Homo sapiens: one gene and its partners. The protein of the gene in region 1 purifies or fractionates together with the protein of each later gene. This does not show direct contact. Each region holds a gene or a part of one and is shown in the gene's direction. Other genes may lie near its edges. The genes, in order: GLO1, IMPA2, AKR1B15, AKR1B1, PGM3, MROH9 and TRPM4.

Region 1 (4,157 bases):
GAGCATATAGATACATGAATAATAAAATAATCTTTAAATTTAGTGCCTAGATAACTTCCATTCACATTGAGAGAAAAATTTAAGTAATATATGTCTATATTTAGAAAATTTGACCAGTTCAGAAAAATACAAAATGAAAAGTAATAGCTTCCCTCCCCAAGTTCTTCTCCCCAGAGATAACTGCTGTCCAGTTTCTTGTGATTTTTTTCTAGAAAAAGGTATTATGAATATATTTATGACATATTTAAAGGACAAAATGAAAACAGATTTATTGAACACTTTTGCCAGGCACTTCAAATGTTATTTTGTTCAGTCTTCACACCAGTCTTAGGAGGTAGCTTTTATCCCCATTTCACAGACGGAGAAACCAAAGCTTAATGAGATGAAGTTACTAGCTCCAAATCCCACAGTTGGCATATGGCAGGGCTGGAACCTGTATCCATTGTCTGATGGGCTCTAATGTAGACTTCCTGTGCAGAGCCCCCAAATAGGGTACAAGTTGACAGTAAGCTGGAAGATTTGAACAGCTGAGAAAAGCAAGTTGCAACAGTTTCATTTCCTTCAGTCCCAACTGATTGGTCCATGAGGGTTGTGTAGTCTGCTTTAGTAGGTGCAGAGATTGTTTTTCATGATTGGAGTATTTGAGGTGTTTGATACTTTATTATAAACATGTTAGAGTAAATCTTATTTGTGATAAGTCAATGCAAGGATCTAAGTGGGCCAAGGTCTATTATATAGCAGTGATAATGAAATAAAAGATTGGAAGCAGAACTCTAGAAACTTTCCATTTGCTATATGGCAATAACAGCCATTTGCTCTTATTGATTATGAACAAAGTCATCTTTGAATAATCTAAAGAAAATCATATATGCATTCTCATGCCACCTTACTCCTTGCCAAATAATCCTATACCATTTAAAGTCATTTAAGGTTCAGGACTTCAGTTATCTTTCTTAAAACCTCAGGATTCATAATTCATTCACTCTCTCTCCCATCAGTCTCTTCTACTGTCTCTTTCCCCTCAGAGAAGCGTAAGTCTTCTTTGTTCCAGAATATTTCTTGCCCTCTGCTCCTTCGCCTACCTCCCCATTGTCACTGCCATGCTTGCTACTGTTTTACCTGCTCACCTGCCATTCTCTCTCCCCAGTACAGTGTAATCCAGCTGATGCTTCCCCACTCTGCTGACATTGCTCTCATGGGACCTTTCCATATCTCATGACCTTTTCTTAGTCTTAATACTGTTTGACCTTTCTACAGTATCTGATACTGTTAGCCACCTTACTGTTGACATTCACGTCTTCTGTGATACTAGTCTGTCCTTCCTCCTTCTTTCTTACCACCTATCCTTAATTTCCTTTCCTAGATGTTTTGGCATAGTAAGAACTCAATAAATGTGTTTATTTAACTGAATGACATATTTATATATGTGTTTGTATGTGTGTATATATATGAAATAGCAACAAGGTTCTTTATATTTTTCAGTACAAATAAACACAGTTCTCTTTTGGAGATAGCCGTTTCTATTTATTAACAAGTACCATAATTTCAGCTAAATGTTACTATATTTACAGAATTGATGAATTACAGAAGTTTTCATTTTTGTATTTCAAATATTTACAGATGCATTTTTCATGATATTTTTTCACTGATTTTTCCTCCTGCTTATTCCATTAAAATAGGCTTACTACATATAGCTCTTCTTTTTAGTAAAACTTGAATATTAAGTTATGTTGATTATAGTATGAATTAGCCTTTCCTGTTGTTAATGATTCAGGCTTGTTGTTTTTTCATTGCAGGCTAATCCAAAAATGTGATTTTCCCATTATGAAGTTTTCACTCTACTTCTTGGCTTATGAGGATAAAAATGACATCCCTAAAGAAAAAGATGAAAAAATAGCCTGGGCGCTCTCCAGAAAAGCTACACTTGAGCTGACACAGTGAGTATGAGTTTCTATATTTATATATATTATAGATTTTTTAAGGTAGTTTTTAAAAATCTTTTTTGTTTTGTTTACTGACCAGTATAATTCAAACCAGATCTGCCTATGACTTCACATTTTTAATAATATATTGAAGTGTTTTTCATGCATCTTTTGATCTTTGTATTGTTCTTGGGCAAATGAGATGTGTTTTTTTTAGAGACAGGCTCTCTGAAGCCTCTAACTTCTAGGTAGTCTTCCTGCCTCAGCCTCCTGAGCACCTTGGACTACACATGTGTGCCACCACACCCAGCTAGTTTTTGTTTGTTTGTTTTTGGTAGAGGCATAGAGGCAAGGTCTCACTATGTTGCCCAGGCTGGTCTCAAACTCCTGGCCTCAAGTGATCCGCCCGCCTCGGCCTCCCAGACTGCTGGGATTATAAGCATGAGCCACCACGCCTGGCCCATTTGTCTTTTATTTTTATTTATTTATTTATTTATTTTTTGAGACAGAGTCTTGCTCTGTTGCCCAGGCTGGAGTGCAGTGGCGCGATCTCGGCTCACTGCAAGCTCTGCCTCCCGGATTCACTCCATTCTCCTGCCTCAGCCTCCCAAGTAGCTGGGACTACAGGCGCCCGCCACTACGCCCAGCTAATTTTTTGTATTTTTTGTAGAGACGGGGTTTCACCATGTTAGCCAGGATGGTCTCGATCTCCTGACCTCGTGATCTGTCTGCCTCGGCCGCCCAAAGTGCTGGGATTACAGGCGTGACCCACCACGCCCGGCCTCCATTTGTCTTTTAGATAAGAGAATATAAGACCCTGAAATTGTAAGATATTTGCCTGTTTGTCTCTAACTAATTTTTAGGTACTATAATTAGTCTTTCAGCATCCAAAATTTTGTTCTTTTATTATTTTGCTACATTTTGGATCCAGAAATGTGATATCATGTGTTCCTTTAAAAATTCTTCAAACCATTTTGTAATAATTAACATTCAAATTTGGTATTTTTATAACTTGAGCACTTAAAAATGTAGGCAATTTCTTTACATTGTTTATCTGCATACTTTAAAAGAGATTGATTTCAGAGTGTGTGATTTCGTGTGTCCCTTGATTCAAAATAAAGCTTTGGAATCAGGCAGGCTTAGATATGAGTCTGTGACTCTAAACAAGTAAGTGGCAGTTTCATCAATAGAATGGAGATGTTCACACCTAGCCCATGGAGCTGTTTTAAGGGTTTAAATGAAATATAAAGTACTTAGCACAATAAATGAGCATTATTATTATTCTTATTATTGTTCTTGTCCAGTACCTGTATTTACTGTCTCTTTAGTCTCGTTAAAATCATACTTTGGCCATTTGTCCTTTCTATAGTTGAAAACTTAATATTTTTGTAGCAGGGGTTAGGCCAATTATGTAAAGTAGCATATAAACGTGGTAAGATTTCAAAGATGTTACTTGCTTTTCAGAATATCTATTCCCTAGGACATTGTAGCTATGTTTTCCTTCCTTTTGTAGCAATTGGGGCACTGAAGATGATGAGACCCAGAGTTACCACAATGGCAATTCAGACCCTCGAGGATTCGGTAAGTTTGCCTGTTTTTATGTGATATATGTAGATTTGTGTGATTTTGTATTATGTATATAATTATGATTTTAATAAACCTAAAACATTAATGTCCTAATTAAGTATGATCAATTTATTAGAGATATGATTATTTTTATTTTCCACAAATAATCTTATTTAGGAGTTGTTTAATTTCAGAGTCTCGATCTAAAATTACACTTACCATCTCACCATGATTTACTTTTAAGTCTCAGAATTAATTTCCAGTAGACTTTTTTTTTTAAAAAAGCTGTAGTTAATACTAATCCCAGTTTCTGCTAGCACATACACTTCTGCCTTGATCTCCAGTCTCTCAATCAAGATGACAGTATTGCAGGCTTCAGCTGGCTGCTATAGTCAATGCCAACCACAAACCTATTAAGTATTAGTAAATGATTACTGTTTTTTGGTGTCGATTATTCTTAACTGATTAGACTGTATATGAGCTGATATTGATTAATTTTAAATAATTTATAATTCAAGGCAACTAATTAACTACTTATACCCAGCCCATTAGATCTATATTTGTTCTTTAATGTATTATAGATTTTGAACCTACCTAAGTCTGTTCCCAAGTGCCTTATGTTTTGAAATAAACAAGTTTTGGAATCTACTTGTGGTACTTGGACACCCT
Region 2 (4,157 bases), on another chromosome or scaffold:
TCCACAACATGTGGTATGGTCTGTCTTTTATATTGTAGCCATTCTGATGGGCTTGAGTTGGTATTTTATTGTAGTTTTAATTTGCGTTTCTTAGATAATTAATGAAGTTAAATGCACATGTTTATTGGCTTTTTTTTTTTTTTTTTTTTTTGAGACACAGTCTTGCTCTGTCGCCCAGGCTGGAGTGCAGTGGTGCGATCTCAGCTCACTGCAACCTCCGCTTCCCGGGCTCAAGCAATTCTCCTGCCTCAGCCTCCCGAGTAGCTGGGATTACAGGCATGTGCCACCACGCCTGGCTAATTTTTGTATTTTTAGTAGAGATGGGGTTTCACCATGTTGGCCAGGCCAGTCTCAAACTCCTGACCTCATGTGATCCACCCACCTTGGCCTCCCAAAGTGCTGGGATTACAGGCGTGAGCCACTGTGCCCAGCTGTTTATTGGCTTCTTTGATATTATTTGCTTTTAAAATGATGGTAATAACACATTGATTATAAATTTATTCATCCAACAAAGAATCATTAACAACTCAGGAAAGGACTTTAGCCTTTTTACTCTGAATGTGAGGGGAGGTTTGGGGCAGAGTCTTGTGTGGGGCTTTATAGGACTCTATATAGGGGACCACCCTGGCTGCTGCATGAGGTCCTTTGTGGGACACTAGGGAGACCAGAATCAGGTATCTGATAGGAAGCCACGTGAGAAATGAGGGTGGATTTGACTGGGGTGCATGAAGAAGGTGGTGAAGAAGATTTACTTTGGAGGCTGAGATGACAGCCTCTGAGTTGGATGTGGGGTGTGAGAGAAAGAGAGGAGCCAAGGGTGACTTCAGGGGTTTAGGCCTGAAAAGCTGGTTGAATGGATTTGCCACTTTCCGAGATGGCAAAACTGCAGGAGGAACAGGTTTGGAGCTGAGAGTCGAGTGTTCTCTTCTGTGCAGGTTAAGCTCGAATTGCCAGTAGATTTCTTATTTTATTTTTTTGAGACAGGGTATCGCTTTGTTTCCCTGGCTGGAGTGCAGTGGTGCAATCACAGCTTCTACCTCCTGGGCTCAAGTGATTCTCCCACCTCAGCCTCCTGAGTAGCTGGGACTACAGGCATGTGTCACCATGCCTGGATAATATGTATTTTTTAATTTTTTGTACAGACGGGGTTTCACTAAGTGGAGATGTTGGATTTGCACCCAAGCTGACGGCAGAGATGCAGTGTGGAAGTCATATTCCTGGAGATGGTATTTAGGGCCATGTCCCGGACAGGAGGAGAGCAGGCTTGGCCACTGATGGGCTTTGCCGTCGGATGAGCTCAGGTCAGGCTCCCATTTTCCTCCTTGGGAGCCTCACAAATGCCAGTTTGTGGAGGTCATTTCTGAAGTGGTTCATTTCTCCAGAAAAGGCTTCCCTGCTCTTCCTGCCTGGGCTGAGCGCACCTGTCGCTGGAGGAAGAGGAGGCAGGAGGGGGAGAGGAGGCGGTGGTGATGGCCTCCAGCTCCTGCCTCGCCTGGTCCACACCTGCAGTGTTTGCTTAGCTCTGCAGGGTGGGGTCAGCCTACGTGAGAAATTCGAAAACTCAACAACATTTCAAACATCAGCAGAGACAGAATTCCTGTGAGACAGCAGCTGGCAGGCACAGAGTAGCAGCTGTCCCTTTGGTGGGGTGGGGGTCGGTACATGGTCTCCAAGGGTCCGAGGCCCACTGCTCCTGACCCTATCTGAGAGGTCCCTATCATTTCCTACCCATTTTGCTAACAAAAGCTGTCTCAGAAGAAGGGGGAGGGCAGAAGGCACTGCCCTTGCCTCTGGGCAGCCTCATCCCAGCCCTTGGCACTCCAGGGTGCCAGTGAGGTCCCACCTGTGCCCCCTTAAGGAGAGGCTGGTAGATGGCTCATCCCCACGGGGAGAGTGAGTCCTGGACTCTGTGGCCCTGAGCTTGTCACTTGCTCACCCCAATGAAGCGCTGCCCAGGGGAGATTACTGTCTTTGGAGTTTGGGGCAGGAGGGTGGGTGAAATCACTCAGCCAGAGGATGGAGAGGCTGCTAGTGAGATACAGGCCCCCTCCTCGAGCTTTAGGGGTGGAGGAAGGCAGGAGCTCAAAGGCATGGGGAGCTGAGACATTGAGAAGGAGAGGGGAGTTCCGGAGTCTAGGCCCCTCCCTCTCTCCTGGCCTCCTCCTGGGCCCAGTGGAGACAGGAGCCTGGAGCCTGGTTTGCGTCTTCTCTCTTCTGTGGGAGTGAGGGAAGGCTTTGGTCTCTAGGCTGAGCCAGTCTCAGGATCCTGTGTCCGTTGTCCCAGCTCTGCCCTAGCCTGCCATGAGCGCTGCAGGAGGCCTTCTGCAGGCTGGCGCCCTGCCCCTGGGCTCACCTTTCATGTGAGAGATGGAGGAGGTGCAGACCTGGCCAGTCACTGCAGTGTGCAGGCGGACTGGGAGGCCATCCCAGCACCTGGGATGTGGACAGCTTCCTGGAAGAAGTCACAGCTGAGTGTGTCTTTAGAAAAAAAGCAGGAGTCAGCTAGGAAGGTTAGGTGATGGGCTTGGGGAGGGGAGAGAGAAGAGGAGGGGTCGGGGCCAATAGAGAAGATGAAAGCAGAAGGGGCAAAAGAGAACATAGCACCAAGGACCTCCAAGAAATGCACTTTGGCTAAAGTTTGAGGTGGGAGAGGTCAGGACTTGGGGGCCCCGTGTGGAGGGCAGAATTGCAGGTGGGTGTCCTGCTCGAACTGATGGGGTGTGGCCCTTGGGGGCTGTGAGTTGGGGTGGACTTGATGAGTCGTACATTGAAGGAGACATAGGAATAAAGGACTTCTGGGTTTCTGGCTCATGCAGCTGGCTGGCTCTCATTGCTTTTGAGAGAAATGTGAGCTGGAGAGGGATTAGGAAGTAATCAATTGTGACGGCTCCAGCCGTGGGGTCGGCTCTGTTTAGCGATGGTGGACTTGGACTGTGGTGCTGGGAACCCCTTCCCTATACCTTACAGCTGCAGGGCCTTGGGCAACTTTCTCCATTTCTTTTTGCCTCCGTTTCCTCATCTTTAACGTGGAGAATAATTTTTGCTGTCCTCAGAGTTACTGTGTGGAATAAATGTACATGTGAACTGCTCAGAACAGCACGGGGCAGAAGAAGCGCTCTGTAAGCTTGAGCTCAGGCCGTGGAGCTGGGCAGGGTGTGAGGTGGAGGCCATCTCCAGGAAGCTCAGCTGCTGAAGGCAGGTCCGAGGGCTTGCAAACACCCACTTTCAAGGAATAGTGGGAGGGAGATGAGCCGCAGAATGGTGGGGAGATAGGAGGAAAGCCACGAGGGGAGGCAGGGGCCACAGGCCACGGGCCCTGGAACACAGGGAATGCAGCTGGGATGTGGGTGACGGGTGGCTGCTGGCATTGGTATGGAAGGTGCCAGTGCCTTGTCAGGGCGGAGGGCGACTAGAGATCAAGGTGAGGGGAAAAATAGCCACGAGACTAAAGGAGGCGTTGAGGATTCGAGAGCCTGAGGTGGGCTGGCCTGGGAGCCACGTCTGCTTGGACCAGCTCCTCCTCTTCCTCCCAGGGTTGAGGTTGTACAGAGATTTGTGACGCATCAACAGCTGTGAACTGCTGACCACATGTGCCACATGACACCATGTGATAGGCGTGTTATTACCTGGGTACCCGATGAACTGTTAGGTTTTATTGATTGTCACACGTATCAGGTTCTTCAGAGAAACAGGACCGGCAGGAGGTGGGTGGGTCCAGTCTGCAGGGTGGGCTGGCAGCTGGAGACGCGGAGAGACAGCTGATGTTCCAGTTTGAAGGCCATAGGGCAGGAAGAGTTGTTCATGTGGACAGAGTCCCAAGGCCATTTGCGGAGAACCCCCTCTTACTTGGGGGAGGGTCAGCCTTTTCATTCTGTTTGGGCCCTCAGCTGTTGGACAAGGCCTGCCCACAGGAAGGAGAGGGATCTACTTTCCTGATTAAGATGCTGATGCCCTCGCAGAAACACCCAGAACAATTTTTTTTTTTTTTTGAGATGGAGCCTTGCTCTGTCTCCCAGGATGGAGTGCAGTGGCGTAATCTTGGCTCACCGCAACCTCCACCTCCTGGGCTCACGCGTTTCTCCTACCTCAGCCCCCTGAGTAGCTGGGATTATAGGCGTGTGCCAGCACACCCACCTAATTTTTGTATTTTTAGTAGA
Region 3 (4,157 bases), on another chromosome or scaffold:
AACTTCCACCTCCTAGGTTCAAGCAATTCTCCTGTCTCAGCCTCCCAAGTAGCTGGGATTACAGACATGTGCCACTGTGTCTGGAGTTGATTCCTTCCAGTGGTTTTGTGGTCTGGCTGACTTCAAGACTGGAGCAGCGGACCTTCACAGTGAGTGTTACAGTTCTTAAAGATGGCACAGACCCAAAGAGTGAGCAGCAGGAAGATTTATTTTGAACAGCGGAAGAACAATGCTTCCACATCCTGTAAGGGTACCTAAGCGGGTTGCCTAAGCGTTGCTGCTGGGGGCTGGGGTGACCAGCTTTAATTCCCTTATTTGTCCCTACCCACTTCCTGTTGATTGGTCCATTTTACAGAGTGCTGATTGGTCCATTTTACAGAGTGCTGATTGGTCTATTTTACAGAGTGCTGATTGGTCCATTTTACAGAGCGCTGATTGGTCCATTATACGGAGCACTGATTGGTCCATTTTACAGAGTGCTGATTAGTCCATTTTACAAACCTCTAGCTAGCCACAGAGCACTGATTGGTGCATTTTACAATCCTAGCTACAGAGTGCTGATTGGTGCATCTTACAATCCTCTTGTAAGATAGAAAATTTCTCCGAGTCCCCACCCAACCCAGAAGTCCAGCTGGCTACACCTCTCACCACCACACCTACCTAATTTCTGTATTTTTAGTAGAGAGGGAGTATCACCATGTTGGCCAGGCTTCTTTCTTAATCTTTTCTTTTCTTTCTTTCCTTCCTTCCTTTCTTCCTTCCTTCCTTTCTCTTTCTTTCTTTCTTTCTTTCTTTCTTTCTTTCTTTCTTTCTTTCTTTCTTTCTTTCCTTCTTTCTTCCTTCCTTCTTTCCTTCCTTCCTTGCTCCCTTCCTTCCTTTACTCTCTTTCTGTCTTTTTCTGTCTGTTTTCTCTATTCCTTACTCTTCCCTCATTCCTTCCCTCCCTCCCCCAACTCTTCTTTCCTTCCTTTCTCTCTCCCTCCCTACTTTCCAACTTTGGGCTGTGTTGAATTTGTTGACTCATCGTGAACAAACAGAAACTCCAATGATACTGTTACCCAAGAGAACTTTGCAAAAGGTTGTCATGTTTAATAATTCATTCACAGAATCCTCAATCTCACAAAAGCCTGGAATGGATTTTCTGTTTGGACAGGGCAGGGAAGCTACTGTGGCCAGGCTCCAGCTCTTCCCACTGCAGCTAGCACAAGCCTTCTAAAGCAGGATGTGGCCAGGCACAGCTCATGCCTGTAATCCCAGCACTTTGGCAGGCCGAGGTGGGTGGATCACCTGAGGTCAGGAGTTTGAAACCAGTCTGTCTCTACTAAAAATACAAAAGTTAGATGGGAGTGATGGTGGGTGCCTGTAATCGCAGCTATTCAGGATGCTGAGGCAGGAGAATTGCTTGAACCTGGGAGACAGAGGTTGCAGTGAGCCAAGATCACACCACTGCACTCCAGCCTGGGCATCAGAGCAAGACTCCGTCTCAAAAACAAACAAACAAAAAGCAGTGAGAGGTGAAGCCACCTGGACTTCCTGGGTTGAGTGGAGACTTGGAGAACTTTTCTCTTTAGCTAGCAGATTGTAAAGTCACCAATCAGTGCTCTGTGTCTGGCTAAAGGATTGTTAATGCACCAATCAGCACTCTGTAAAAATGTACCAATCTTTCATCCCATCTCATCCCATCTTTCAGTCACTTCACAAATGGTTCCTAGTAGATACAAAACAGTTTTTTCTCCAATGGGAAAACAGAAAACAGCCACTCAGTTTGCTCCCAACACCCGTTTCTAGCCGCTTACCACAGCTACCTTGGCAAGTACTCTAGGAGTATGGGAAAATGAAAACGACAAACTCACACACCTTTTTAACATACACAACCAGTTCTGACTACCTAGCCAAGGCAGATTCTTCTTCTGTGGAATGTCAACCTATATCTGCCTCCCGACCAACTGGACAGGCACCTGCAACCTTAGTCTTCCTATGTCCCAACATTAACATTGCCCCAGGAAATCAGACCCTATCAGTGCCCCTCAAAACTCAAGTCCGTCAGCACAGAGCCATACAGCTAATACCCCTGCTTATAGGGTTAGGAATGGCTACTGCTATGGGAACCGGAATAGCCAGTTTATCTACTTCATTATCCTACTATCACACACTCTCAAAGGATTTCTCAGACAGTTTGCAAGAAATAACAAAATCTATCCTTACTCTACAGTTCTAAATAGACTCTTTGACAGCAGTGACTCTCCAAAACCACTGAGGCCTAGGCCTCCTCACTGCTGAGAAAGGAGGGCTCTGCATCTTTTTAGGGGAAGAGTATTGTTTTTACACTAACCAGTCAGGGATAATACGAGATGCTGCCCGGCGTTTACAGGAAAAGGCTTCTGAAATCAGGCAATGCCTTTCTAATTCTTACACCAACCTCTGGAGTTGGGCGACATGGCTTCTCCCCTTTCTAGGTCCCATGAAAGCCATCTTGCTATTACTCACCTTTGGGCCCTGTATTTTTAACCTCCTTGTCAAATTTGTTTCCTCTAGGATCGAGGCCATCAAGCTACAGATGGTCTTACAAATGGAACCCCAAGTGAACTCAACTAACAACTTCCACCAAGGACCCCTGGACCAACCCGTTGGCCCTTTGACTGGCCTAAAGAGTTCCCTTCTGAAGGACACTACAAGTGCAGGGCCCCTTCTTCGCCCCTATCCAGCAGTAAGTGGCTAGAGAGGTCATCACCCAATTCCCAACAGCAGTTGTGGTGTCCTGTTTAGATGGGGGATTGAGAGGTGAAGCCAGCTGGACTTCCTGGGTCAAGTGGGGACTTGGAGAACTTTTCTGTCTAGCTAGAGGATTGTAAATGCACCAATCAGTGCTCTGTGTCTAGCTAAAGGATTGTAAATGCACCAATCAGCACTCTGTAAAAACGCAGCAATCAGCACTCTGTAACTAGCTAAAGGGTTGTAAATGCACCAATCAGCACTCTGTAAAATGGAACAATCTGCAGGATGTGGGCAAATAATGGAATAAAAGCTGGCCACCCCAGTCAGCAGCAGCAGGGAACCGCTCAGATACCCTTCCACACCGTGGAAACTTTGTTCTTACCCTCTTGACGAAAAATCTTGCTGCTGCTCACTCTTTGGGTCCACACCACCTTTAAGAGCTACAACGATCACCACGACAGTCTGCGGCTTCATTCTTGAAGTCAGCGACACCACAAACCCACCAGAAGGGAGAAACTCCAGACACATCTGAAGGAACAAACTCCAGACACAACATCTTTAACAGCTGTAACACACACTGTGAAGGTCCACGGCTTCATTCTTGAAGCCAGCGAGACCACGAACCCTCTGGAAGGAACCAACTCTGGACACAGCAGGACGTGAGACTTCTACCTGCTCACTCAGAATCATTTCCGCACCAACCATGGCCACGTTTGTGGAGCTCAGTACAAAAGCCAAGATGCCCATTGTGGGCCTGGGCACTTGGAGGGTAAATATGCAAATCTTTGCACAACTTTCTTCTCTGGAGGGCTGTTTGGGTGTTTTCTCTTTCTACATTCAGCCAGAAAAGCCTGGAGGTCGGGTAGGGGTTTGGAGAGGTGAATTTCAGTCCTGGAGCTGGGACTCGGGTTGCTTTCTTTTCTCAAAGCTGATTCAAGCTGCAATGCTGCAAGACTGGCTTTCCCAGCAGTGATGAGAACTCCTCTAGCAAGTATCAAATTTCAAGCAGAGTTGGACTTAAAATTGTTTTCCAGGGCAGTTTCTCTCTCTGGCTCTAGGACACTTAATTGGGCACAAGGTTTCCCCAGAGTCTTGGCTGTGGGTTTGTTGTGGGCTGGGTGGTTGTGGAGAGGATGCAGAGCCAGAAGTCCCTGGCACCACTTTGCAGATCACCATGTGGGACTTGGGCTAGCAGCATCCCTATGACCTGGGAGCTTGTTAGACATGCAGAACTGGCTGGGTGTGGTGGCTCATGCCTGTAATCCCAGCACTTTGGGAGATCCAGACGAGAGGACTGCTTAAGCCCAGGAGTTGGAGACCAGACTGGGCAACATAGCAAGACCCAATTTCTACAAATAATCAATAAATTAGCTGTGCATGGTGGCATGCAGCTGTAGTCCCAGCCACTTGGGAGGCTGAGGTGGAGATTGAGTGTTGAGCCT
Region 4 (4,157 bases), on another chromosome or scaffold:
CAAAGCCTGTTGAAAATAGCTGATGTCAAAACACAGATGTCTGCAGCTGCTATGGCCCTGGGGGGTTTTTCTTTTCATTTGTTTCTACCCCAGCTCTCCAAAGGAATGTGCTCTGTTCATTCAACAGCCCGCTGCACATGTTTATTGCTCAGCTCTGTGATCATAGCAGGATAGTGAAAGTTGGGGGATACGTGTCCATGCAGCCTACCTGGGTGCCAGTGAAGCGCGATGCCATGTAGGCACTTCCTCCTCCTCTTCAGTAGCCAGGCTCCCCACAGCTGTTCTGGTTACTCAGATGGTCAGGTGGCTTGGCCATGGACACCCATTCAGTCATTTTGCCAGGTCAGCCACTAACCATTTGGTGATCTTCCATGATCCACATTCCCCCTCGTTTCCCTTTAACTTATTTCTCTCTGCTGATACCTCTGAGGGGCCATCTCCCGTGTCTCCACCCCTTGAAGCAGATCCTCATACAGTGAGAATTGACACATGGGCCTTTGAATAAACATCAGTGATGTGCTTAACTTCATGATAATCTCCCAGAACCGCTTGAAAACAAGCGACTGCCGGTATCAGAAGCCATGCATGAAAAGAGAGCGTAAGGGGCAGGCATTCACTGGCTGAACTGGGGAGCCACATGGGAATTGGGGTCCATAGGACATCTATTTTTGAAATATTTTGAGATATTTGAAGGAAATGGTTTCCCTTACTATCTCAGCATTCAGAGTGTGGGGAAATGTTTTTAATACAGTGGTTTGCAAATCAGTGGATGTGAAGAAGCAAGAAAATGAGATGGCTTCAGCATATCTTTTAAAAGTGATCTCACCTACACTTAAGTGGCTGTCAGATTCTCCTACAGGGCAATGCTGTGTGGCCTTTCACTTCCATCCCCCGCGTCTGAGGCTGATAGTCCAGAATGCTGCTGAGGAAGTGCACGTGGTCTGTCTTTGCTGAACAAAGTGGCAGGCTGGTCAGCAGGTATCGGTGGCTGCCACTGCCCCTCCTCCTTGCTGTGCAGACTCTGCATTCTGCGGGGCTCACGTTCTTTCTCCTTTCAGTCCCCTCCAGGGCAGGTGACTGAGGCCGTGAAGGTGGCCATTGACGTCGGGTACCGCCACATCGACTGTGCCCATGTGTACCAGAATGAGAATGAGGTGGGGGTGGCCATTCAGGAGAAGCTCAGGGAGCAGGTGGTGAAGCGTGAGGAGCTCTTCATCGTCAGCAAGGTATCGTTCCGCGGTGGGGCTGGAAGGGGCTCTCGGTCCCATCATCTGTTGGTGCATCAGCCCAAAGCCAAGTCCACACTCAATACAGCTACACTTTTCACTGATGGGCGATTCTTCCCGGGGAAACGTATCACCCACGGCCATACAGGGCTCCAGAGCTCGCCCATCCTTGGCTCTCTGTTGAATGGTCATTCCATCTGGGCCCATTGCTTAGAGTCCCGTGCTGATGAGGCTGAGGTTGTGGATTGGCCCTCCCTTTCCAGGGAGTCGCTTTCAAGGATGGAACTTGGTTCCCATCTGCAAACTGAATCTCCAGTGCTAGCCACTGTCTTTGACCTGAGATACTGATGCACAAAGGACATGAGGCAGGAGGATGGGGCTGGCTCCACAAACACCAGCCCGGGGGGAAAGTTTCGAGAGTTCTTGCTTAGGCCTAGGGCAGGCTAGCCAATCTGTCCATTCCATTTTGTGTCCTCTGGTCCTTGTAAGAGGTCTCTGTGACCTGGTCATCCTGCCTGCCTTTGGAAAGTTAGGATCCAGTACGCAGTGGAAATGCCCTCACAACCATTCACAGCATCATGGTAAAGCAAATGGGTTTTGGGGAGAGGAGACTGCTCTGTCTTTCCAGCCAGGAAGCTGCCTTGTGGCTGGCAATGATGACATGTGCCCTCTCGCTGGCTTAGCTGTGGTGCACGTACCATGAGAAGGGCCTGGTGAAAGGAGCCTGCCAGAAGACACTCAGCGACCTGAAGCTGGACTACCTGGACCTCTACCTTATTCACTGGCCGACTGGCTTTAAGGTATGGGATGCCTGGTGCAGACCAGGTCCCTTGGGGCTCAGGTGCAACCTGTGGTGTGTTTTGAGCTCCCTTAGCAGATTACGTGTGGGTGACTTTCTGTTCTTGCTGCTCAAGGTATAGCCAGTGGACCATCAGCACTGGCATCACCTGGGAGCGTCTTAGAAATCACAGTCTCGGGCCCCACGCAGGCCATTTGAATCCGCACCAGCAGTGACTCATACGCACACTTCTTCAAAGTTTGAGGAGCACTGCTCTTTGCCAGTTGGTAGATGTGCAATTTAAAACTGTCAGCAAACACAGCTGCTGTCTGTAGTGCACACAGCCATGAGGCACGGTCAGCCCTGGCCCTCCCCTCCAGGCACGTGCACACACCAACCCCCATACACATGAGTCCCTACCCACGTTCTACATGCATACCCTGTCCTGTGGAGGCCCGGTAACTATTTGCAGTCTAGTTGTTGGCACAAGAAGAACTTGAGAGTTACTTTGTCTTTTGCCTTTTTTCTAGCCACTGCCTCAGTTTTCTGCTGTGAGCCAGGTTCAAAGTGTGGGTTTAGCTTTATCCCGTAGCCCTGTTTTATTGCACCACAGCATATCAGGGCTGAAGGGACTTGACTTTTATCTTTTGATTTTAGGGGTAAGCTGGGGAGGCTGGGCCAGGTGGTAGTTTTATAGGCCAGTGACCCGCCAGGCCTTGGGCCCTGTGAGTCCTGGTCTTGAGTCCTTCCTGTATCCACACATTGCAGTCAGTGGCGGGGCTAGTCTCTGTGACCAAGTAGTGTCCATGTCTCCGTCTGACAGTCTCAGCTCCAGCCCGTTTGATAAAGAAGTGTTGGCTATCTGCCTATTTCCTTTTCATAGTGGCACACAGATTATCCCTAGCCAGCTGTGGTGGTTTAGAATTGTTTTAGATGCCAGCTTCCCCCAGCAGGTCTGTGAAGGACTATTACTGATTGTTTTGTTTGTTTGTTTTTTATTGTAATGACAGCCTGGGAAGGAATTTTTCCCATTGGATGAGTCGGGCAATGTGGTTCCCAGTGACACCAACATTCTGGACACGTGGGCGGTAAGACAGCCCCTGGTTGGACCTTGTTTTCGTGACTGGTTCCCTCTTCTTCTTAGAAGCAATCTGCCTGCCATTTCTCACATTGCATTTTGTTATTCTGTCCCTGTTGTTTGCTCTCTCTTTTTTTTTTTTTGAGTTGGGGTCTCCCTCTGTTGCCCAGGCTGGAGTGCAGTGGCACAATCTCGGCTCACTGCAAGCTCCACCTCCTGGGTTCACGCCATTCTCCTGCCTCAGCCTCCTGAGTAGCTGGGACTACAGGTGCCCGCCACCACGCCCGGCTAATTTTTTTGTATTTTTAGTAGAGACGGGGTTTCACCGTGTTAGCCAGGATGGTCTTGATCTCCTGACCTCGTGATCCGCCCGCCTCAGCCTCCCAAAGTGCTGGGATTACAGGCGTGAGCCACCGCGCCCGGCCTGTTTGCTCTTCTTATCTCATTAAAGCCAGCCTGGCTTTCGTCTCACTGTCTCTTAGCTTCTGAAAGGTCTAATTCACTGGCACTGAAGAGTGAGGGCAGGACCCGTTAAACTGGTGCAAACGACACTTCTGATCCTGTCCTTTCTGGGTTCGTTTCTGCACCACACAGACACTTTTCTCTGTAGGCCATGGAAGAGCTGGTGGATGAAGGGCTGGTGAAAGCTATTGGCATCTCCAACTTCAACCATCTCCAGGTGGAGATGATCTTAAACAAACCTGGCTTGAAGTATAAGCCTGCAGTTAACCAGGTAAACATCCCCCAACGACACTGGCATTGCAACGTTGCTGTTTTACTGTCTGATGCTGGTAGGGATTTCTCGTCCACCTCACCCAGCAAGTGGCCAGGAGGCAGCTCCTGGGTGTTGGCAGAGTCCTGAGTTATGATTCAGCATGACACAGCACATCTGGGAGAGGAAACTTACAGGAAAGAAAGAGTTTGAGCCTGGCTTGTGACGATTTGGGGTCTGACAAAGAGGCAGCCATGAGATCCTCAGAACTGTGATAGTTGATAAGTGGCTAAAGCCAAGAAAAGCCTCTAGGGCCCATGAGAACATCTATAATAAGATAATAATAACACCAAGGATACTACC
Region 5 (4,157 bases), about 44 Mb from region 1:
ATCCAGCCACTATTTCTTACTGGGATTAGTCCTAGAAGCCTCCTCATTCCATTTCTTAACCTTCTAATTGAACTTGCTGCTATTTGCAAACAAAGTTTTATTGGAATAGAGCTATGTTGATTTGTTTATGTATGGTCTGTGGCTGCTTTTGCACTGTAATGGCAGAGTAATTGTGACAGAGACCATATGGCCTGCAAAGCCTAAAATATTTACTGTCTGGCCTGTTACAGAAAAAGCTTGCAATTCTGCTCTAAGCTATTCTCCACACTGTAGCTAAACAGCTTTCTAAAACAGTTAGGTCATGTCACGCCCCCACTTGTAATCTTTCGTGTCTTATAAGGAGACCCTCATCTCTCTCACCGTGCTTTACCCTTGGCTGCGTGCTTCCAGAGTGTGTTCATGCTTCCATTGTATACGTACCATTTTGTATTTTAATGCTTAATCGTCTTCCTCACTGGACTCGGCCCCAGTATTTTGTTCCCCTTTGTATCTCTGGGATACTAGGTATGCAAGAAACATTTGACATCTGAGTAATTGCTGTATTTCTTTAAATGCATGTGTTATAGGTACCTGTCTATTGCACTAAGACTGGTGTAAAACATTTGCACCACAAGGCTCAAGAGTTTGACATTGGAGTTTATTTTGAAGCAAATGGGCATGGCACTGTAAGTTCTCTTAATTATAGTTGGCCTTAGCTGGCACTTTTCTTTATGATGAGACTTCTATATCTGGGAGGTAATAATAGGTAATATTGTACTTTGTTGAAATAATTGGATGTGACAAAAAGATCCTTTGGTTATCTTATATATTGATGTATTATGAAACTGTGATTCTCTTTTACATGGTAATGATTCTTCTTTGAATGTGAAGAGATATACTAAGGTGTTTTGAATAGTTTTTTAAAATTTACAGTTCTTAATTTTTTTATAAGTATGTTGTCTATGCATTTTCCGGCTGGCCATAGGAGAGGAAAAGAAAAATTCAGTCGCTATGGTGAATTGCAAAGTGTTGGAAAGTTGATAATTAATAAGAAATGAAAATGAATTTAAGGTAACTAGTGATAGGCATAAAATGTTTCAATTTACATTTTACATAAAATTACATTTTAAAGTGTATAATTTAGTTTTTTGTAGATTCATAATGTTCAGAATATTTTTAAAATGTTTTTATACTCACCTCATTTAATGAATACACTTGAGGTGGCTATCAGAACATTTGAATCAAAGCCAAATAATTTTCCTCATTAATTTAAAATTGGCTTTTGGAGGGCATAAATATAAAAAGGGGAAAAATAAGTTCCTACAAAATGCAATTAAGATATAACTTTAGTGATCGAATGGAGAAGTTGGTAAATTATTTTCTAAAGGGTAGAGAGTAAATATTTTTGGATTTTCAGGCCATAAGGTCTCTTACAGTTGTTTAACTCTGCTGATCTAGCTTAAATGAATCTGTGTGGTTGTGTTCCAGTAAAACTTTACAAAAACAGGTGACTAGCCTGTGCCTTATTTTATCAAGAAAAATGTATTTCATCAAGTAGTTGAGCATAGTATGCTAATCTTGCTCAGTATTAGGCCTCTAGAAGGCAGTAAAAAAGATGAGTATTTCCAAATGAGATAAGACTCTTGAGGAGCATGATGAATTATATATTGTAATGACTATCCATGACATTATTTGCCATATTTTGATGAATACTATGAACTCTTAATTTTGCCTAGCTCATCCCCTTAAGTTTTAGAATAAAACTATACTAGCTGCAATGAATTATATCCTTCAAAGTAAAAAGGATACAGACAGGCTCTAAGTAACCTGGTTGCACAGAAATGATTTAGCTGGTTAAAGGGAAAACATGAACTTACTGTGTGTGCTTGCCTCTTGTCAAGGTGGTGTTTTCTTTGTAATCAGATGTTTAAATTTTTATAACCAGTTATATAATCCGCAAATAAAATTTTTCCCCTAGTACTATCCTCTGGGTTTTAATGTGATCTTACATTAATTTCATACATTTTAAGGCTGCCACTATTTTTCCCCTCAGTTTCTCCAGATTGACTAGGAGGGAAAAGTGGGTTAGCTAGAATAATAGTACTTATGACTAGGTTTTGGATAGTGTTTTGAGACTGATTTTATATTCTTTTGCTGCAGGCACTGTTTAGTACAGCTGTTGAAATGAAGATAAAACAATCAGCAGAACAACTGGAAGATAAGAAAAGAAAAGCTGCTAAGATGCTTGAAAACATTATTGACTTGTTTAACCAGGTCAGAACTGATGGGGCAGTGGACTCTTGGTTACCTTTACATTATTCAGAAGATGGACAGAACAGAGTGTGGGTGCATACAAAATTAAAGTGGAGACGTCCTGGCCTGGTGGCTTCCTTCTAATAGTGGTATATTCAGTTGAGATTTATAATGAAATGGAATGACAGAACATTTTTTAATATGCTTCCCTTCCCCTACCTCTTATGATGGAAATTTTCAAGTATATTGGGTAGCTTCTACCTAGGATCACAGATTCAGCTACTCAGTGTATACATATATATTATTAATTTTTTTTTAACCAAACCTCGATGAAATTAAGTAAAAATAACTGGTTGTCAGGCCAGGCACGGTGGCTCATGCCTGTAATCCCAGCCCTTTGGGAGGCCAAGGAGGGCGGATCACGAGGTCAGGAGATCGAGACCCTCCTGGCTAACAGGGTGAAACCTCGTCTCTACTAAAAATACAAAAAATTAGCCGGGCATGGTGGCGGGCACCTGTAGTCCCAGCTACTCGGGAGGCTGAGGCAGGAGCATGGTGTGAACCCGGGAGGCAGAGCTTGCAGTGAGCCAAGATCACGCCACTGCACTCCAGCCTGGGTGACAGAGCGAGACTCTGTCTCAAAAACAAACACAAATAACTGGTTGTCTCATTGACAAAGGACATACATGTGGGTTAGTTGGGGTTGGAGTGTCGTTTGGCTATGGAAAAGCAGTACTCAGGGTAGAGGAAAGCGATTCAATTATTTGAGTGTCTTGCACACACTGGACACTTTATATACCTTGCTGTGTAATCCTTACAGTAACACAGGGAGAGGTGTTACTGTAATTTCCATTTTATAAGTGAAGAAACAGAGATTTATCTTCAGTTATATCTTATACCAAAGCTCATATTTCTCCATTTTACCTTGATGCTTTCTATCAATCATTGTGGGGTAATATCTCAAAAGGGATCTATTTATAAAAAGAAAAATGAGTGATGGAATGTTAGGCTGAGCCTTAGAGTTATCCAGTCTAATTTCATTTTATAAATAAGGAGTACTAAAGGCAAGTTTCTCAAGAGCTAGTTTCAGTATTCTTTGTTATACCTTTCATTGTCTTCCACAGAGATCTTCACCTCATTGTTCGTATTTTATCCATCCACAAAAACACTTCATTTAATCATGCTGCATGTGAGAAAGCACATGATATAGGCTGAGTATCCCTTATCCAAAATGCATGGGACTAGAAGTGTTTTGGGTTCCAGATTCACTGGATTTTGGGATATTTGCATATATATAATGTGACATCTTGGGTATGGCACTCAAGTCGGAAACACTAAATTCTTTTGTTTCATGTATGTTACATAAGATTAAAGGTGGTTTTATAGAATACTGTAAATTTAGTGCATGAAACAAAGTTTGTGTCTACTGAACCATCAGAAAGCAAAGGTGTCACTCTGTCAGCCACCCGTTGGACAATCTGTGGTTGTCTGGCATCACCATCATTCCTAAAACTCTGAATTTATATGCTATCAATCAATAAGCAATCAATCATTTTTTTACACTTATTCACACACAAGTATTTTAATAGTAAAAAATATGATACATATCTGGCATGCATGGAAACGATGTATCATAGCTGAAGGAGGCTGAGAGGGTCTTTTTCCCTTGGGGATGCTGAATGAACTGCGGGCCTGCCTTTAGTGGGTTTTTTTTGTTGTTGTTGTTGTTTTGTTTTGAGATGGAGTCTCGCTCTGTTGCCCACGCTGGAGTGCAGTGGCGCAATCTTGGCTCACTGCAACCTCTGCCTCCCGGGCTCAAGCAATTCTCCTGCCTCAGCCTCCCGAGTAGATGGGATTACAGGCGCCCACTACCACACCTAGCTAATTTTTGTATTTTTAGTATAGATGGCGTTTTACCATGTTGG
Region 6 (4,157 bases), on another chromosome or scaffold:
TTAAAGAGGAACTAGAGTTGAAGGACTTATACCATGGGATATCAAGATGCATTACACATTAAGGTCATGTCGTAGTGACACAATGATAGACAGAATAGAATCAAGACATTGACCACACACAATTTACGTCTAGGTGACACTGCCGAACAGTAAGGTAAGAACGATTTTTCTCTTAACGGTGCAGTATCAACTATACAGGTATATAAAAATATCTTGACCCCAACTTCATGCTGTATAACTCCAGATGGATGGTATATATAAGCATAAAAGGTAAAATAGTAAAGCTTCCAGAAGTAAATATAGGAGAATATCTTTATGGCTTAAGACAAGCAAACATTTCCTGAACAGGACCTCAAAATTAACTGACCATAAATGTAAAGATGATGAGTTCAACTACATTGAAATTAGGGGTTTGTGTTAATTAAAAAACAAATGCAAATGGAAAAATTTAGCCATGAGATAAGAGAAGATATTGTAAGATATGCACCATTTTAAACAGATTAGTACTTAGAACTTTAAAACGTCTACAAGTAACTAAGAAAAAGATAACTCAATATATACACCGGCAAGAGACTTATCTGAATAAGCATTTCACAAAAGAAGACATCCAAATGGCCAGTAAATACACACATGATCTTATTAATTAACAACAAAAAATGAAAATTAAAATTACAATGTGATATTATCACCAAACCCATGAGGATGACTGAAAGGAAACATTTTAACAGTATCAATTGTTCGGAGGACATAGAGCAATGAAAATGTTAGCGTACTGTTTGTGGGAGTGAAAATTGGTACAGCCACTTTGGATAACTGTTTAGCAGTAACCGCTGAAGTGGAACATAAGCATACCCGGTAAATCCACTAGTTATATACCAAACAGCAGTTATACAAATACCTGCCAAAATTCATGTACAAGAATTCCCATAACTTCATCATTCATAATAGCTCCAAACTGGAAACAACACAAACGCCCATCAACAGCAGAATGGATTTAAAAAATGATGCATTCGTAAGATGTACTTGTATATAGCAGGTTCAGCAAACTCTTTCTGTTAAAGGCCCAATAGTAAATATTTTAGACTTTGAGTACCATATAGTCTCTGTTGCAACTCTGCTGTGGTATGATGAAAACAACCATAGATATGTAAACAAATGAGCCAATGTGAATGGCTGTATCTCAAGAAAACTTTATTTGCTAGCCTCTGCCATGTAGCAATGGAAATGAACAAACTATTGCTACATGAAAGAACATGGTTGAATCTTAAAAGGTAATATGAAGCAAAGGAAAGCAGACACAAAAGAATATATTCTGAAAGGTGGAGGAGGAGACTGGGAGAGCCTTGAAGGAAGCTTCTAGGATGCTGCTAAAACTCTATTTAATAACCTAAATGGTAGCCCTGGTGTGTTCCTTTTGTGGTCATTCACTGAGCTGTCCAATATGATTCATGCACATTTATACTCTCATATATCTTTCAATAAACAATTTTATGAGACAATAATTAAAAGTACTAAAAGATGACTCAAGGATAATATAGAGATGCTTTGCTTTGAAAAAAGCAAAGAAGGTAGCCAGATAACATCAGAAAATGTATTTTCATAATGCATGTTGCAGTAACTTTAATTTTTATTATGTGCATAGGATATTTGGCAAAATCAGGTGGTCATTTACTGCTTAGAGATGAAATCGAAGTCATGCTTGATGGTGAGTATTGAGGTTATAACAAAATCTTTATGCATAAATCTAAATACATTTACTATTTTTAATTCTAGTCACATATGAGTTCTGTTAGAGTGCCAGGCCAGACAGGAAGAGGGTGGTGGTAGTAGTAGTTGGATAATTACGGAAGAATCAATGAAAGGACTGGGTTAAGAGGTTTGTTTTTTCTCTTTCTATTCTATTTCCCCTTACTCTCTTTCCCTGTTTCAGTCTCTCCATGTATTCCACTAATTGTCTGAGAACTATCATCCTAGAGCCCTTGGGAACTTCAGAAAGTTGAAAACTCATTTACTCATTCATCTAACAAATATTTTTTAGCATCTCTTATGTTTACGTGACAGCACTATTTACTGCTAGGGACAGAGTTGCAAATAAAGCAGTCTCTTCCCTCAGAGAATTCACATTTTAGTGGATAGCAATGTACAATACATTTGCAGAGGAGGGAATTAAAGAAGGGTAATATTAGTCTATCAAAATGTTTGGGTCTTAGGAATCTCCCTTAGCCTCTGTCTATCGTCCCATCAGGGTAAGAATTACAAATAGTGAGTTATAAAAACAAGTTGGCTGCCTTCCTTCCTTTTTCTTTCTTAATAGACTATTTTTTAGAGCAGTTTCAGGTTCACAGCAATATTGAGCTGCAGGTACAGGGACTTCCCAAGTACCTTCTCTCCTCACCTATGCATAGCCTCCCCCATTATCGACATCCCCCACCAGAGTAGTACATTTATTATAATTCATGGACCTACATTTATACATCATTACCTTCCTTCCTTATTCACTCATCCATTCATTCATTCACTCACTCATTCATTCATTCAACACATATTTGACTACCTGCTAAATGTCAAACACTAGAATTTTCCATCTTTCTTTCTTACAGTCATTTTCTTCTTTCATTCCCCCCATCCTGCTCTTCTCATCTCTGTTTTCTAAATCTCCCCCTTTGTTTCTATTTCTTTTATCGAGAAATAAAATAGTAATTTCTCACAGTCCACTATCTGGATATAATGATATTAACATTTTGGTATATGTATTATCCCGGATTTTTTTTTTTTTTTTTTTGAGACGGAGTCTCCCTCTGTCACCCAGCTGGAGTGCAGTGGTGTGATCTCAGCTCACTGCAACCTCTGCCTCCTGGGTTCCAGTGATTCTCCTGCCTCAGCCTTCTGAGTAAGTGGGACGACAGGCACATGCCACCATGCCCGGCTAATTTTTTGTATTTTTAGTAGAGATGAGGTTTCACCGTGTTAGCCAGGATGGTCTCGATCTCCTGACCCCGAGATCCACCTGCCTCGGTCTCCCGAAGTGCTGGGATTATAGGCATGAGCCACCGTGCCTGGCCTATCCAGGATATTTCTAAAGAATGAAAGCTATTATATATTTTTTTAAACTATCATAACTGCTTTTTAACTTTTTCACTTACCTTTATAATATAAACATCTTTCTAAGCCAAGAAATATGGGCCTACATTATGTTAATATGTATGTAGCATTTCATTTTATGTTCCTAATTTTTAAGCAGTTCCCTGTTAATGAACATTGAGACTGATTTTAACTTTTTCATTATTATGACCAATATGAACCTCTTCCTAAATATATGAATACATGTTTATGTTATCTAGCAGAATGCTCAGCACATAAAAGGTCCTTGGTAATTTTTAGTGAATATTCCCATTTTTCTTTTAATGGGGTCTATGTGGGGTTTTAGTAGGGATAGATGATAAAACTTCCTGAATGCTATCAGCCAAAGTTACAAAATGCAGAGGGAATGCAGAGGAGAGATGGAGAGAAGGGGGCACTCTGTGAAAGGTGGCAGGGCTGTTTAGTATTAAAGCTTCATGGCCTCTAAGAAAGAGATAACTTGAACTAAAGTCTCTTCTGATATTACAGTTATTGAACGACTGCTCCGAGATGAAGACCCTATGATCAAACAGTTGGCTGAAATAACCTATGATATTTTTAAGAAAAAAGCCCATAAACTGACCTCTGCACCTCTTAAACAAAACTTCCAAAAATTGCTTAAATTATTCTACATCAAAAAATTGAAGCCTCTTTACAATTATAACTCACCCAATGGCCAGATAGACAGTCCTACAGACAGTAAAGATGTCAAGAATGATAAGGCCTTATAGAAGAGAATGATGATGACATTCATCATTCATAAACAATGGGAAGTCCAACAATGTCTTGGAGCTGACCTTAGAAGAAGAATGATTTTTCTTTCCCTCCTGACAACTTGAGTCTGTTTGTAGATGCTTTTCTGAAAAATTCTGGAAGCTTTTACTGTTACTTCTTAATTCTCTATTCAAATATAGAAATCTGAGAGAACTAGTGCCTCTGTATGTCTGACAGTGATCAGAAGCCCTATTTCATCAAAACCACTAAGACAATTGAAAATAACATAAGCAAAGTGTTTGATGAGAAGCTCTGGGAACTTG
Region 7 (4,157 bases), on another chromosome or scaffold:
CCCTCTCTCTCTGGGTCTCTGTCCCCGTCTCTCTGGGTCTCTGTCCCCGTCTCTCTGGGTCTCTGTCCCCGTCTCTCTGGGTCTCTGTCCCCCTCCCTGTGTGCCCCGCTCCCATGTGTCCACAGTTCCTCCGGCTCTCTGACCGAACGGATCCAGCTGCAGTTTATAGTCTGGTCACACGCACATGGGGCTTCCGTGCCCCGAACCTGGTGGTGTCAGTGCTGGGGGGATCGGGGGGCCCCGTCCTCCAGACCTGGCTGCAGGACCTGCTGCGTCGTGGGCTGGTGCGGGCTGCCCAGAGCACAGGTGACCGAGGGTGGGTGGGGGCTGTCTCCTGGGCCTCGGCCTGCCTGCCATCTCCCCCACGACTGTGGGTGGCCTCCCCCGCCGCCCAGTGTGTGTGTGTGTCTCTGTCTTATTCTTTGTTTCTCTCCCCCTGCCTCTGCATGTTCCTCGGCGTCTGTGTAGGAGCCTGGATTGTCACTGGGGGTCTGCACACGGGCATCGGCCGGCATGTTGGTGTGGCTGTACGGGACCATCAGATGGCCAGCACTGGGGGCACCAAGGTGGTGGCCATGGGTGTGGCCCCCTGGGGTGTGGTCCGGAATAGAGACACCCTCATCAACCCCAAGGTGTGACCCAGGGACTTGGAAAAGGGGGCTGGAGGCCTGGACTCCTGGGTCTGAGGGAGGAGGAGGGGCTCGTGTTTGTCCTTCTGGCCCCGATGAGGAGACGCCCTGGTCTGGCCATTTTTCCCCTAGGGCTCGTTCCCTGCGAGGTACCGGTGGCGCGGTGACCCGGAGGACGGGGTCCAGTTTCCCCTGGACTACAACTACTCGGCCTTCTTCCTGGTGGACGACGGCACACACGGCTGCCTGGGGGGCGAGAACCGCTTCCGCTTGCGCCTGGAGTCCTACATCTCACAGCAGAAGACGGGCGTGGGAGGTGAGTGGTCGAACCCATGACCCACAACCCACGACCCACAACCTGCAACCCCAGCGCTCAGGATCCCAGTAGTTTGGTCTGGTCGAGATTTGGGGAATTACCTATGGTTAAGTGTCTTTCCCCGTCATTATTCATGGTTTTAAAAACTTCTGTCTGAGAGTGAGTTAGCTCACATCAGTAATCCCAACACTTTGGGAGGCCGAGGTAGGAGGATTGCTTGAGGCCAGTAATTCAAGACCAGCCTGGGTAACAGAGCAAGACCTTGTCTCTACCAATAATAATAATAATAATAATAATAAAGAATAAAAAATAAATTAGCCAGGTGTGGTGTCGTGTGCCTGTAATCCCAGCTACTTGGGAGGCTAAGGTGAGAGAACTGCTTGAACCCGGGAGGTGGAGGTTGCAGTGAGCCGAGATCAAGCCACTGCACTCCAGCCTGGGCGACAAAGCAATACTCCATCTCAAACAAACAAACAGACTTTATTTTGAAATTTCTCATACATACAGAAAAATGCACGAAGGTGGACAGCTTGATGCATTTTTTTCTTTTTTTGAGACGGAGTTTTGCCCTGTTGCCCAGGCTGGAGTGCAGTGGCGCGATCTCGGCTCACTGCAGCCTCTGCCTCCTGGGTTCAAGCAATTCTCCTGCCTCAGCCTCCTGCCTCAGACTCCTGAGTAGCTGGGATTACAGGCACGTGCCATCACACCCGGCTAATTTTTGTATTTTTAGTAGACGGGGTTTCACCGTGTTAGCCAGGATGGTCTTGATCTCCTGACCTTGTGATCTGCCTGCTTTGGCCTCCCGAAGTGCTGGGATTACAGGTGTGAGCCACCGCGCCCGGCCTAATGTTTGTATTTTTAGTAGAGATGAGGTTTCACCTTGTTGGCTAGGCTGTTTTCGAACTTCTGACCTCAAGTGATTCGCCCACCTCAGCCTCCCAAAGTGCTAGGATTACAGACGTGAGCCACTGCACCTGGCTCCGGCTAATTTTTAAAGTTTTTTGTAGAGACAGGGTTTTGCCATGCAGCCCAGGTGGCCTCAAACTCGTGGTCGAAAGTGGTCCACCTGCCTCAGCCTCCCAAAGTGCTGGGATTACGGTCGTGAGCCACTGCGCCCAGCCAGCCAATATCTTATAATTTTATCAAAACATGAACAAGATACATTACTAGGTTTGAGGAAAGTTTTTGATTTTTGTGTATTTTTCTTGTATCAATCCTCTTACCAAATTTTCTTATTGATCTTTATTTTTATTTTTGGTGGGGTTTTCCAATTTTCTGGGAATACAAGCCATGTTTTCTTCAAATAGGTACTTTTGTCCCTTCCAGCTTTACAAAAAACCAAAAACCAAAAAATCAATTTTCACTTCAGTGATTTCATTTTTTTGCATTATTGAGTTAGCTCAAAACTCCAGGATGAATACAGTGTTAGTGGTAATGTGGTCTAGTTTCTAATTTATTTATTTATTTTTTTGAGAGGGAGTCCTGCTCTGTGCACAGGCTGGAGTGCAGTGGCGTGATCTCAGCTCACTGCAACTTCTGCCTCCTAGGTTCAAGCGTTTTTCCTGCCTCAGCCTCCCGAGTAGCTGGGACTATAGGCACGAGCCACCACTCCCAGCTAATTTTTGTATTTTTGGTAGAGACGGGGTTTCACCATGTTGGCCAGGCTGGTCTTGAACTCTTGACCTCAGGTGATCCACCCGCCTCGGCCTCCCAAAGTGCTGGGATTACAGGCATGAGCCACCGCACCTGGCCTAGTTTCTAATTTTAATGGAAGTAGAGTCGATATAGTGCTATCTTTATGGTGCAATTGGATTTTGGTAAATATCTATATTGTGGTTAGATAGCCCTTTCTATTCCCATTTCCTTTACTTTCTATTTGAACTTTCACTCCCTCTGGCTCCTGGATGGTTAATCAATGACAGGATTGACTCATACAAGAAACACCTGCCTCATTCAGGGACTCAGGAGTCTAGGTCCTCAGCCCCCTCCTCCCTGGGGAAGTTAAGCATTACTGTCTTCAAAATCTAGCTCCCTCCTGAAGTGTCCAAAGACATGACAATTCTGGCCAGGCGCGCTGGCTCACAGCTGTAATCCCAGCACTTTGGGAGGCCAAGGTGGGAGGATCCCTTGAGTCCAGGAATTCGAGACCAGCCTGGGCAAGATGGCAAGACCCCTGTCTCTACCAAAAATTAAAAAGTTAGCTGGGCACGGTGGTGTGTGCCTGTGGTCCCAGCTACTTAGAAGGCTAAAGTAGGAGGATCAAGATGTAGTGAGGTGTGATCATGCCCCTGCACTCTATCCTGGGCGATAGAGTGACACCCTGTTTCAGAAATTAGGCTGATGCGGTGGCTCATGCCTATAATCCCAGCACTTTGGGAGTCCAAGTTGGGAGGATTGCTTGAGGCCAGGAGTTCGAGACCACCCTGGCCAACATAGCAAGACCCCCATTTCTAAAATAAATACATAATTAAGTAAAAAAAGAAATGACAATTCCAATGAGCCTCTGAACAGAAGATTAGGACAAGGCTGATGTTTGCCGACTCCTGGGAAATGCGGTTTTCTCCTATCTCCAGCAAAGGCTGATGGGAGGTAATCAAGCCCCCTTCTCTTCTTGCCTCAGGGACTGGAATTGACATCCCTGTCCTGCTCCTCCTGATTGATGGTGATGAGAAGATGTTGACGGTATAGGGGCCCGGATGCCCGGATCTAAGGGGGAAGGAGGGTTGGGGGCCAGGACTCCTGGGTCCTGAGTCTTAGGGAGGGTCTGGGGGTCTGACTCCGGGTAGGGTGAATATCCTGCCTTTTCTGACGTGATGAATAAAGAATGCCTTTATCCTGTAGCGAATAGAGAACGCCACCCAGGCTCAGCTCCCATGTCTCCTCGTGGCTGGCTCAGGGGGAGCTGCGGACTGCCTGGCGGAGACCCTGGAAGACACTCTGGCCCCAGGGAGTGGGGGAGCCAGGCAAGGCGAAGCCCGAGATCGAATCAGGCGTTTCTTTCCCAAAGGGGACCTTGAGGTCCTGCAGGCCCAGGTATGACACTGGGGGCCCAACTCTGGATCCTGAGATGGGAGGGAACTGGGGACTTGGGCTCCTGGGTCTGAGGGAGGAGGGGCTGGGGGCCTGGACTTCCAGGTTCCGGGAGAAGAGGGTGCTGGGCATATAGACTATTAGGTCCTGGAGGGGAATGGCCTCCTCCATCCCTTTGGACA

The links.
Region 2: the proteins of GLO1 (region 1) and IMPA2 fractionate together in Homo sapiens (co-fractionation; one large-scale study listed by BioGRID). This does not show direct contact.
Region 3: the proteins of GLO1 (region 1) and AKR1B15 fractionate together in Homo sapiens (co-fractionation; one large-scale study listed by BioGRID). This does not show direct contact.
Region 4: the proteins of GLO1 (region 1) and AKR1B1 fractionate together in Homo sapiens (co-fractionation; one large-scale study listed by BioGRID). This does not show direct contact.
Region 5: the proteins of GLO1 (region 1) and PGM3 fractionate together in Homo sapiens (co-fractionation; one large-scale study listed by BioGRID). This does not show direct contact.
Region 6: the proteins of GLO1 (region 1) and MROH9 purify together in Homo sapiens (affinity purification with mass spectrometry; one large-scale study listed by BioGRID and IntAct). This does not show direct contact.
Region 7: the proteins of GLO1 (region 1) and TRPM4 purify together in Homo sapiens (affinity purification with mass spectrometry; one large-scale study listed by BioGRID and IntAct). This does not show direct contact.

Annotation. Positions count from the first base shown.
Region 1 is NC_000006.12:38,682,154-38,686,310, reverse strand, and holds part of GLO1 (lactoylglutathione lyase), read left to right. Parts: intron 1-1,796; coding exon 1,797-1,937; intron 1,938-3,435; coding exon 3,436-3,503; intron 3,504-4,157. UniProt on the Homo sapiens protein: Catalyzes the conversion of hemimercaptal, formed from methylglyoxal and glutathione, to S-lactoylglutathione. Involved in the regulation of TNF-induced transcriptional activity of NF-kappa-B. Required for normal osteoclastogenesis.
Region 2 is NC_000018.10:11,987,873-11,992,029, forward strand, and holds part of IMPA2 (inositol monophosphatase 2), read left to right. Parts: intron 1-4,157. UniProt on the Homo sapiens protein: Phosphatase that can use myo-inositol monophosphates, myo-inositol 1,4-diphosphate, scyllo-inositol-1,4-diphosphate, glucose-1-phosphate, beta-glycerophosphate and 2'-AMP as substrates in vitro.
Region 3 is NC_000007.14:134,562,063-134,566,219, forward strand, and holds part of AKR1B15 (aldo-keto reductase family 1 member B15), read left to right. Parts: intron 1-2,535; 5' UTR 2,536-2,557; coding exon 2,558-2,707; exon of another isoform or gene 2,708-3,418; coding exon of another isoform or gene 3,419-3,484; intron 3,485-4,157.
Region 4 is NC_000007.14:134,448,655-134,452,811, reverse strand, and holds part of AKR1B1 (aldo-keto reductase family 1 member B1), read left to right. Parts: intron 1-1,058; coding exon 1,059-1,226; intron 1,227-1,909; coding exon 1,910-2,026; intron 2,027-3,014; coding exon 3,015-3,092; intron 3,093-3,692; coding exon 3,693-3,815; intron 3,816-4,157. UniProt on the Homo sapiens protein: Catalyzes the NADPH-dependent reduction of a wide variety of carbonyl-containing compounds to their corresponding alcohols.
Region 5 is NC_000006.12:83,172,470-83,176,626, reverse strand, and holds part of PGM3 (phosphoacetylglucosamine mutase), read left to right. Parts: intron 1-566; coding exon 567-665; intron 666-2,139; coding exon 2,140-2,253; intron 2,254-4,157. UniProt on the Homo sapiens protein: Catalyzes the conversion of GlcNAc-6-P into GlcNAc-1-P during the synthesis of uridine diphosphate/UDP-GlcNAc, a sugar nucleotide critical to multiple glycosylation pathways including protein N- and O-glycosylation.
Region 6 is NC_000001.11:171,060,490-171,064,646, forward strand, and holds part of MROH9 (maestro heat-like repeat-containing protein family member 9), read left to right. Parts: intron 1-1,642; coding exon 1,643-1,705; intron 1,706-3,609; coding exon 3,610-3,851; 3' UTR 3,852-4,157.
Region 7 is NC_000019.10:49,167,792-49,171,948, forward strand, and holds part of TRPM4 (transient receptor potential cation channel subfamily M member 4), read left to right. Parts: coding exon of another isoform or gene 1-125; coding exon 126-306; intron 307-468; coding exon 469-632; intron 633-761; coding exon 762-945; intron 946-3,565; coding exon 3,566-3,627; intron 3,628-3,786; coding exon 3,787-3,978; intron 3,979-4,157. UniProt on the Homo sapiens protein: Calcium-activated selective cation channel that mediates membrane depolarization. While it is activated by increase in intracellular Ca(2+), it is impermeable to it.